Linked DNA regions of Homo sapiens: region 1 is linked to region 2. The links come from fine-mapping of genetic effects on gene expression. A gene starts in region 2. The other region holds a variant in brackets. All regions are shown on one strand. Distances are between the middles of the regions. Region 1 overlaps LOC102724322 (a long non-coding RNA gene). Region 2 holds the start of RNF38 (ring finger protein 38).

Region 1 (4,392 bases), 81 kb after region 2:
TGGCTTCTTCGTCATGAAATATTTGCCAGTTTCTATGTCTGGAATGGTATTGCCTAGGTTGTGTTCCAGGGTTTTTATAGTTTTGGGTTTTATGTTTAAGTTTTTAATCCATCTTGAGTTAATTTTTGTATATGATATAAGGAAGGGGTCTGGTTTCAATCTTGTGCATATGGCTAGCCAGTTATCCCAGCACCACTTTGAACAGGGAGTCCTTTCCCCATTGCTTGTTTTTGTCAGGTTTGTCAAAGATCAGATGGTTGTAGGTGCGTGGCCTTATTTCTAGGCTATCCTGTGCCATTGGTCTATGTGTCAGTTTTTGTACCAGTACCATGCTGTTTTGGTTACTGCTGCTCTATAGTATAGTTTGAAGTCAGGTGGCATGATGAGAGGCATTGTTTATAATATTAATACTAGCACAGGAGCTCACACATGGGTGTGATGTGTATTGCATGCACACTCACACAACAACCTAATGTCCATCAGTGAAAGCCAGTTAAATAAGTGATGATATAGTTATGTGACTGGACATTAAGATGGGATTATTTCTGTCTCCAATTCAGCTGAGACCTCAAAGTCTGAGAATACATAAAAGATGCATAGTTCCCCTGCATCCCAAGGGAGGGGCTGGATCACACATGCAGAACACACTAAGATATTATGAAACCAGGTCTGCTGGCATTAGCGTTCACCCCATCCTACCCATCAAAGGACAGAAGGGTTGATGAGTCAGTGGAGTGCTGAGGCCTCCCCAGCCCTCCCCACCACACCCCTGGGGAGGTGGGAGGACCTGCCTGGGAGGTGGAGTGGCAGGAGGGAGCAGGCTGGGGGGCACTGCCCAGAAGCTGCCCTCCCACTGCCCAGTGCTTAGTGCCAGTGCTCCCGGACCACACCGAGGGACGAGCTGCTTATTCTCGTGGCCCCATATCAAGATGCAGATAAACTGGGAAAGAAGAGAATTTCTATTTCTGTAACCAGGTGCAGGGAGAAGGCCTGGAAATTATCGCCAGACCAACTCAAAATTTCAAAGTATTCCAGAGCTTATATACCTTCTAAGCTCTATGTGTACGTGTAAGTGTGCATTTATCTAAAGACATAAGTGATTAACTTCTAATCTATAACTAAGGTCTGAGTCCTGAAGACCTTCCTCTGGAGCCTCAGTAAATTGACTTAATCTAAATGGGTCCAGGTGCTGCAGTGATTACCCTTATCTTGTCTCCTACTAAATCACAGAGGTTTGGGGAGTTCCTTCCAACCTCCAATAAACTTGTTCGTGGAGGCCTGGGGAGTTTCTTCAGACCCCCCAATAAAACTTGTTTGTTTAATCCTAAACAGGTTTTGTTAAGAATGCCTTCGTTATTTTGTCATGCTTTAAGGCCCAGGAAAGGCCTAGGCGAAACTCTGGGTGGGGTTTTGTTACATTCCAGCTTTTGTGTAAGGACACTGGCTCTACCAGCTTTTAATATTTAACTTCACCAGTCAGTACTGAAATAGTTGTTACGGAGGCCCGCGTTCCTGAGGCCTGGCCTGCCATACCAGGAGGTTGAAAGGAGTGGAAGAGGAACTCTGATATTTGGATTCAAATACTTCTATATTGTCCAACATAAACATGTTCATATGTTACCAAAAAAAAAGGAAAATAAAGGAGTAAAAAAGCATGTACAATGAGCACCTAATAATTAATAGTTTGTTCTAGGGAGCAGCCCTGGGAAAGCATTTCCAGCAATTTCAGATTTTTGTTATGTTTGAATTTTTTTACAATATGCATGTTTTATTTGTAGAAGCAGAAAATAATATCCAAATATAGCATTTTAGAAATAATTATAAAAAGCTACCAGAAGGCCCAGCTCTTCACCCCTCTCCTCCTCCTCCCTCCATTAAACACAGAACTCAGCCCAGCAGGGTAGGGCTGCAGCCCATGGCAGCACTGGGAGAACGCTTCCTTTCTCTGGCTGCCCACACCCAGGATGGGACTTCCAAGCAGGACAGGGAACAGGTCCCTGTTCAGGTCCAGGGATCAGCTGGGACGCCAGCGCCTTGAACCTGACTTCCCCAGGCCAGGACTCAGCCCCCTCCTTGGAACCCCATTGCTCCCCGGACTCTCCCCATCTCAGCCTCTCCCACACTCCACCCGTCTGCCGGCCTGCACCCCAGCTCTGTCCCCTCCTCTCCATCCCCAGTCCACTCACCTTCAGCTGGTAGTGAGCTTTCCCATGAGGAAACTGAGGCACGCTGGGAAAAGGGAGCTACTCCAGGTCAAGCAGCAGCTTAGCAACAGGGCTGGGACCCAGGCTTCCCAGTAGCCGCTATGGTGTGCTTTAAGTAACACCACACACCTGCACAGCTGAGGTGCGCCGCACCTC[C/G]CCCTCACTATACTCCTTCATTCCAGATTGAAATGTGCACCATGCTCAGGCAAAAACAAACAAACAAACAAACAAACCAGGCTTTTCTCACAAAATCAAATCAGAAGGTAAGATGTGTGTGGCAGAAACAAGTTTCTTAACTTCCCGAAACCTTATTTTCCTCATGTGGAAAGTGAGTTGAAGAGCTCCTGCCTCATGGCATCGCGGGGGATCTAATGAAACGATGTGGTGCAGCTGGTGCCTCATAACTGGCAGCTGTGGTTTGTTTCTCCCAAAACCCGCCACTCTGGCCCCCAGCCATTCAGGAGCTGTTTTAGGTGGCATTCATTTGGGTGGTGGGGAGCAATGGAACTTTTTCTTTTTTCTGAGACGGGGTCTTGCTGTCGCCCAGGCTGGAGTGCAGTGACGCAATCTCATCTCACTGTAACCTCCTGCTCCCTGTAACCTCTGCCTCCCAGGCTCAAACGATCCTCCCACCTCAGCCTCTCAAGTAGCTGGGACTAGGTGCACACCACCACGCCCAGCTAATATTTGTATTTTTTGGAGGGACGGGGTTTCGCCATCTTGCCCAGTCTGGACTCGAACTTTTGGGCTCAAGCAATCCTCCTGTCTCAGCCTCCCACAGTGCTGGGATTACAGGTGTGAACCACCACGCCCCGTCCCAACGGAACTTTTTCTTCCTCATCCAACAACGTATATATTTGCTCTTCAGTGAGTAAACAGTTGTCCTTTTTTTTTTTTTTTTTAGCAGCACTGGATTCTAGGAAAAATGAAAAATGAAGTGCATGCTTCACTTACTATGCCCCTGTGTAATAAACATCAGCTTTACCGAAGAAGAAACCTGAGGCTGTGTCCACACTGCAGTTATCTTCCTACACTCTCCATTTCTCCTTATTCTACAGATTGGCTGGGGGAAACTGAAGGATATATTCCTGGTGCAGTAAACCTGATGGTCAAACCTTCCCGGAGCTCCAGGGCAGCCAGCTGCTAGGAAGCCTCTCCCCTCTGGCCCACACCCTTCCTGTTGGCTCCTGGCCACACCAACCCATCACCTGGGAGGATGCTGGAGAAACGGGGTTGCCCCAAGAGTCCACGTGTCCTTGACGCATGGCCAGACTCAACAATGGGCTTCTTAATGAAACTGGGAAACTGCAGAGTTCAAGTGGGGGTTGGGTGCTGAACCGTGGCTCATTCCCTCAGGGATCAAATATCAGCAGAGTCATCAGGTAAAGGCCACCAAGTTCACCTTCACCTTCCTGAGGAAAAGACGTTTGGGGTCTCAGCTTTCTTCAGCAGGCAGGGCAGCTCTCCAGCACATGATAGAAGCAGGCTGCGAGTTAGATGGCAGACAGAGGCCGGACACGGTGGCTCACGCCTGTCATCCTAGCACTTTGGGATTATAGGCCAAAGGATCGCTTGAGGCCAGGAGTTTGAGACCAGCCTAGGCAACACAGTGAGATCCCAGCCTCTGTAAAAAATTAGCTCTGCGAGGCCAGGCGCAGTAGCTCACGCCTGTAATCCCAGCACTTTGGGAGGCCCAGGTGGGTGGATCACCTGAGGTCAGGAGTTCGAGACCAGCCTGACCAACATGGAGAAACCCCATCTCTACTAAAAATACAAAATAAGCTGGCCATGGTGGCACATGCGTGTAATCCCAGCTACTCAGGCTGAGGCAGGAGAATTGCTTGAACCCGGAAAGCAGAGGTTGCAGTTAGCCGAGATGGCACCATTGCACCCCAGCCTGGGCAACAAGAGGGAAACTCCATCTCAAAAAAAAAAAAACAAAAAACCGGAGCTCTGCGTGGTGGTGCATGCCTGTAGTCCCAGCTACTCAGGAGGCTGAGGTGGGAGGATCACTTGCAAAGCCGAGTTCCAGGCTGCATTGAGCTGTGATTGCACCACTGCACTCCAGCCTGGGCAACAGAGAGAGACACCGTCTCTTCAAAAAAGCTGACATCTGCTGAGTCTGTCAGGGGCTCGCAGATGTGGGTGGAGGGGGCTCAGATTCCCTGTGCCTGGGTGCTGGGGCCGG
Region 2 (4,392 bases):
AGATCTGTAATTGGAAGGCGAATCCACAGTAGATTGCGATTTGTGAGGGATACAGAGGATAGAAAATAGGATACATTGGATAAACTTAAAGGTATGGTTGGCACTTTACCTTGAAGTGAAACAAACAAACAAAAAAAACAAGTTTAGATGTGATCATCTCCAAACTGGCTGCTTTGGGAGAGAGCCAGCCAGCTGGTTAACTGGGTTACATAATTCGAGTATGGGTTTGGGGTGGATATGTTCATAGGGACCTAATACCTCTTTCCAGCTTCTCTTTGTTTGTCCTGGAATTCCAAAACCTATGATGTTATTGCTGGAACTTTGATTCAGCAGTTGCTAAACACCTTCTCTTGTGTTTCTGGCACTAGACTTGGGCCTTGGGTTTAGTTTACACAGTCCCAACAGAGTCTGGGTGCTCAGTCTGATATGGGAGACAAGTGTACATAAATAATTACCATATAGTGTTGTTCATAAAGAGAATGTCCAAGGTCCAGAAGGTCCTGAAACAACATTTACTCTGATTTCCCCCATTTTCTACTGGTTGCAGCTGAGGCCCAGAGAGGGAAAGAGAGACTGGTTTAAGTAATGCCAAAAGAACTAGAACTTGAAAACCCGAGTTTTCTGTTGACTGGTCCTTAATAATTTTACTCTACCACCCTAAAATATGATCACCATCCTTGCGGGAAACATCTAATTTCTGCTTTAAAAAGTCCACCCCTTCCATGATGTCCTCTTGACTGCCCTCTCTCCTTAAGTCTGATACCACTTTACTATTTTTTCCTTGTATGGATTGTGCTTTTGTGGAAATTTTTATTTTCTCTCTTGTATCGTGATTATCAGGACAGGAGCCAAGCCGGCTTCAATCTTTGTTCTTATTTCCCCTCCCCAAGCGACATCTGAGCAACTGTCACACTTAAGGAAGCCTCGGACAAGTTGGGTTCGAACCTGTTGGCTTGCTGCATTGAGAGACACCTTTGTGTACTGCAATAAAAATTCTTACTTTTCGGGCCACGTGAATGCATTTATGCTGTAAGAACTACGTGAGGTCAGTTACTGTTTGATTGCGGAGTTTTGTAGGTAGGAGGCACGGAACAGTAGCAACAATTTACTAAGAGAAAATCTATAGGAATTGGAACAGGGCCCTGCGGTCCGCAGGGCAGCGGGGGGCGGGCTGGGGCGGGGCTGCGCAGTGGTGCTGCGCGCGGAGCTCTGTTGCCGGAACTGGTCCGAGTCGTGCGCCGGGCCGCGCGCAGCCCCGCCCCGCCCCGCCCCGCCCCCTTCCCCCTCGGGGTGGAAACAAAGGGGGTTCGGCGCGCGGTGCGGAGCCTGGGGGAAAAGGGAGGAGCGCTCCGGTGGTCTGGCGCGCTGGGCTCGCTAGGTTTGTGCTGGCGAGGGGACGGGGTGGGACGGGCGACCCGGACCCAAGAAGTGGGAGGACCGCGCGTGTCGCGGCCTAGCGGCGAGGGGAGTCGCCTGCGCGCGCAGCGGAGGCCAGTGCGCCGGCGCATAGGGAGCCCGGGTCTGTGATCGCCGAGGCGGGGTGAGGCGGGGTGCGGCGGGGCGCGGCGGGGCGGGGAGGGGCGTGGCCGGGCCGGGCCCCTAGTGCGGTGTTGCGGGACGGGGCCGAGGCCCGGTCGGTTGGGGCGTGGGGGCGGAGAGGATGGAGCCTCCGAGGCGTTAGGCGACTCTGTCATCTCTGGGCGTGCAGCCGTCGTTTCCTGGCGCGGCCCGTGTGATGGTGCCGGGAGGAAGGAAGCGCAGTGACAGTGCCTAAGTTGGAGCCGGGGTTCCGGGGGTGAGGAGGCCCGCGGACGGCGGATCTGGCGAGCTGGCCGCGGGCTGGGCGAGCAGTCACAATAGGAGGCGGCGGCCCAGCGAGGATCCGCGGGAGCTGCCCGGCAGGGCGGAGCCTCCCCTCGCAGGTACTGGCCGCCGCGGCCGTTGGCTGCAGCGCGAGGGCGGGACGGGCTGCGGGCCGTTGAGAGCCTGCGGGGCCGCGCCCGAGTCTTGGGCTAAGGTTTGCCTCGGCCGCCCGGCGCTCTTTGTTCCCGCGGTGGCGAGGAGGCGCGGTCTCAGCTCGCGGAGCCGCCGGCCCGCTGCCCGGCAGATGGCCTCGCTCTCTCGCTCCCTCCCTTTTTGCCGAGACGCAGGTGAAATGATGTCACCCAGGAGAACGCGGAACCCGGTCGAAAGGGTCCTCTCTGGCGTCCTTCTGCTTCCGTGGGTTTCTGGATAGGCTGCGTTTTGTTCTCAGGGGATGCAAGTTCTTCCTTTCAGGGTTGAAGCGTGAGAGAGGTTGGTTTTTGAAACGGGAGTGTTTCAGGTTATTGAGGTCCAAAAAGAAATAAAGTTTTTGTTTACGTCTGTATGGCTTGTAAGGTAAAGTATTTTTCTTTGTGTTGCAAAAATGATATATGCTATTATTCAGTAAAAGTTGGGTATGCTAATTCTACCGTAAGTAGAAACACACACATGTAATTATTGCCACCATTATATGAATTGCCATTTCTTTTTTCTTAAGCGGTGGACTTAACGTATGAAAACTTAAATGTATACAAAGCTCATAATACAGTTGTTACCTTAGAGTTGCAAGTCTGCTGTATTCTGTTTGGCCTTGATTGCGAGTGTTGTTATACTTGAAAATTTACCGTAAATTTTTTTCAATAGCAAACAAACCTTGTATGTAGGCTTTAAAAAAAATTCCCTTTTATAGGGACAGTTGGAATCGAAGTAAAATTGTTCCTATCTTCAGGGAACACCGTCTAATGGAAGAAATAGAACTTTTGTAGAGATAATACGAAACCACATACATATAGATGTCAGATCAGGTGTGGGAAGCTGGGACACACTTGGAATAAAAAGATGAAATTTCTGACTGGAAGTTTACCTGGGAATTGTGTCACTTCAGATACTCCTTTCTCTGGGGTTTATAAATATATATTTATAATATATTTATTTATAATATGGTATTATATAATATATTATATATATTTATAATATGGTATATTTCACCTTTTGCAAACCTGCTAATCATACATTGTTCATTCAATTTTAAGTTGATTTTTATGATATTTCTGTAAGACTTATTTCTAAGAGATTTGAAGGCCTTAGCGCCTATAGTTGAATAAGTTCTGCCACAGACTCGTCATGTGGGCCTCAGGCTCTCATCTGTAAAATATAAAAAAAGTTGGACTTAAATAATCTGTGGGTTTTCCACCTCTGACTTCGTCTGTGATTCTAGAAGGTAGTTCGTATTTCCATACTTGTTGGGCTTTATATGCCCATCTTGTTTTTATAGTTAAATTGTCAAGTATTACTCTGGGTGAATATTGAGGAGAATTTTCTCTACTAAAATAACCTAATTTTTGATGAAGAGTAAACAAGATGGCATAGTCAGACATAACTGACTGTTAGCATCATAATGTAGAGTGTAGATCTGTTGTCTCTCTGCCAACAGCATTGGATGAGGCTTTTAATTCATGTTACATTCCTAGGCTGTTTCTGTTTGTGCTCACTTTCTTTTTTTGAGGCTGTGAGTGGAAAGTGTGGGTGAGAAATTCTTATGATAAAAGTTTCTGAAATGATTAGGTACTTGCTCAGTATGGAAAGATTATTGGTCAAGATTATGTCTTCTAGTTTATTCCACCTATTTCTCTGTACTACCTCTAGTTTGGTTTAGGCCACCACCATTTTGTAATTCATCTTGCTGGAAAGGTAGTTCTTAATTAGTCTTGATTGTTGCGTTGTGTTTGTTTTGGTTTTCCTGCTAAGAAAACATGTCAGACAGTTTTCACTTCCATTTTACTCTACTTAACTCACAGCCTTTTCTCTGGAAAGAGCGAACAGATTGTAAACATGGATTTGAACAGTATAGTTCTTGTCTAGTTCATCAGCAAACGTTAATTAATACGACGTTATCTAGAGGAGATAAAGCATTAATACTTGAACTCTATATAGTAAATTAATGAGAGAAATTTAGAATAAACAGATGAAGAAGAGGGGTCATGTACACAGTCTCTTCCCAACTCTTACATCTTTCATTAAAAAAATTTTTTTTTAATTTTAGTTTTTCCAGAAACGGGTTTTGCTATGTTGTCCCTTCTGGACTCGAACTTCTGGGCCCAGGTGATCCTCCTTTCTTGGCCTCCTGAGTAACTAGGACTACAGGTGTTTGCCATGGAGCCTGCCTGCCTTAGATCTTTCCCTTTGTTAAGGATCTGAACTTTTCACCTCTTCTATCTAGGTTATGGAGCCCTATTATCTTCTTGTAGTTCCTGTTATTAATTGTCCCTCACTAGACTGAGTTGCTTTAAGGGTAAGGACTGTTTCTTTTTCCCATTTTGTAGTCACAGCATCCAGCATATGGCAGGCAAGCAATAATTATTTGAATTA

Evidence for each region. PIP is the estimated chance that this variant, and not a neighbour inherited with it, causes the effect.
Region 1: its variant is the best candidate, but not a certain one, in a credible set for the expression of RNF38 in whole blood (TOPMed, PIP 0.74).

What each region holds. Positions count from the first base shown.
Region 1 is chr9:36,317,021-36,321,412 of GRCh38, reverse strand. LOC102724322 (a long non-coding RNA gene) reads right to left here. Exons shown (of 5, transcript XR_001746660.2): 5 at 2,948-3,616. Among named protein-coding and RNA genes, the nearest start is that of GNE, 61 kb to the right of the region's middle. The variant C/G (reference allele first, on the strand shown) is at 2,361.
Region 2 is chr9:36,398,084-36,402,475 of GRCh38, reverse strand. It overlaps RNF38 (ring finger protein 38), which reads left to right and starts at 2,207. Exons shown (of 12, transcript NM_022781.5): 1 at 2,207-2,379. The coding sequence starts at 2,368. LOC124902152 (a long non-coding RNA gene) reads left to right here. Exons shown (of 2, transcript XR_007061475.1): 1 at 1-582; 2 at 891-1,011. RefSeq lists silencers at 1,148-1,607, 1,638-1,967 and an enhancer at 2,178-2,247.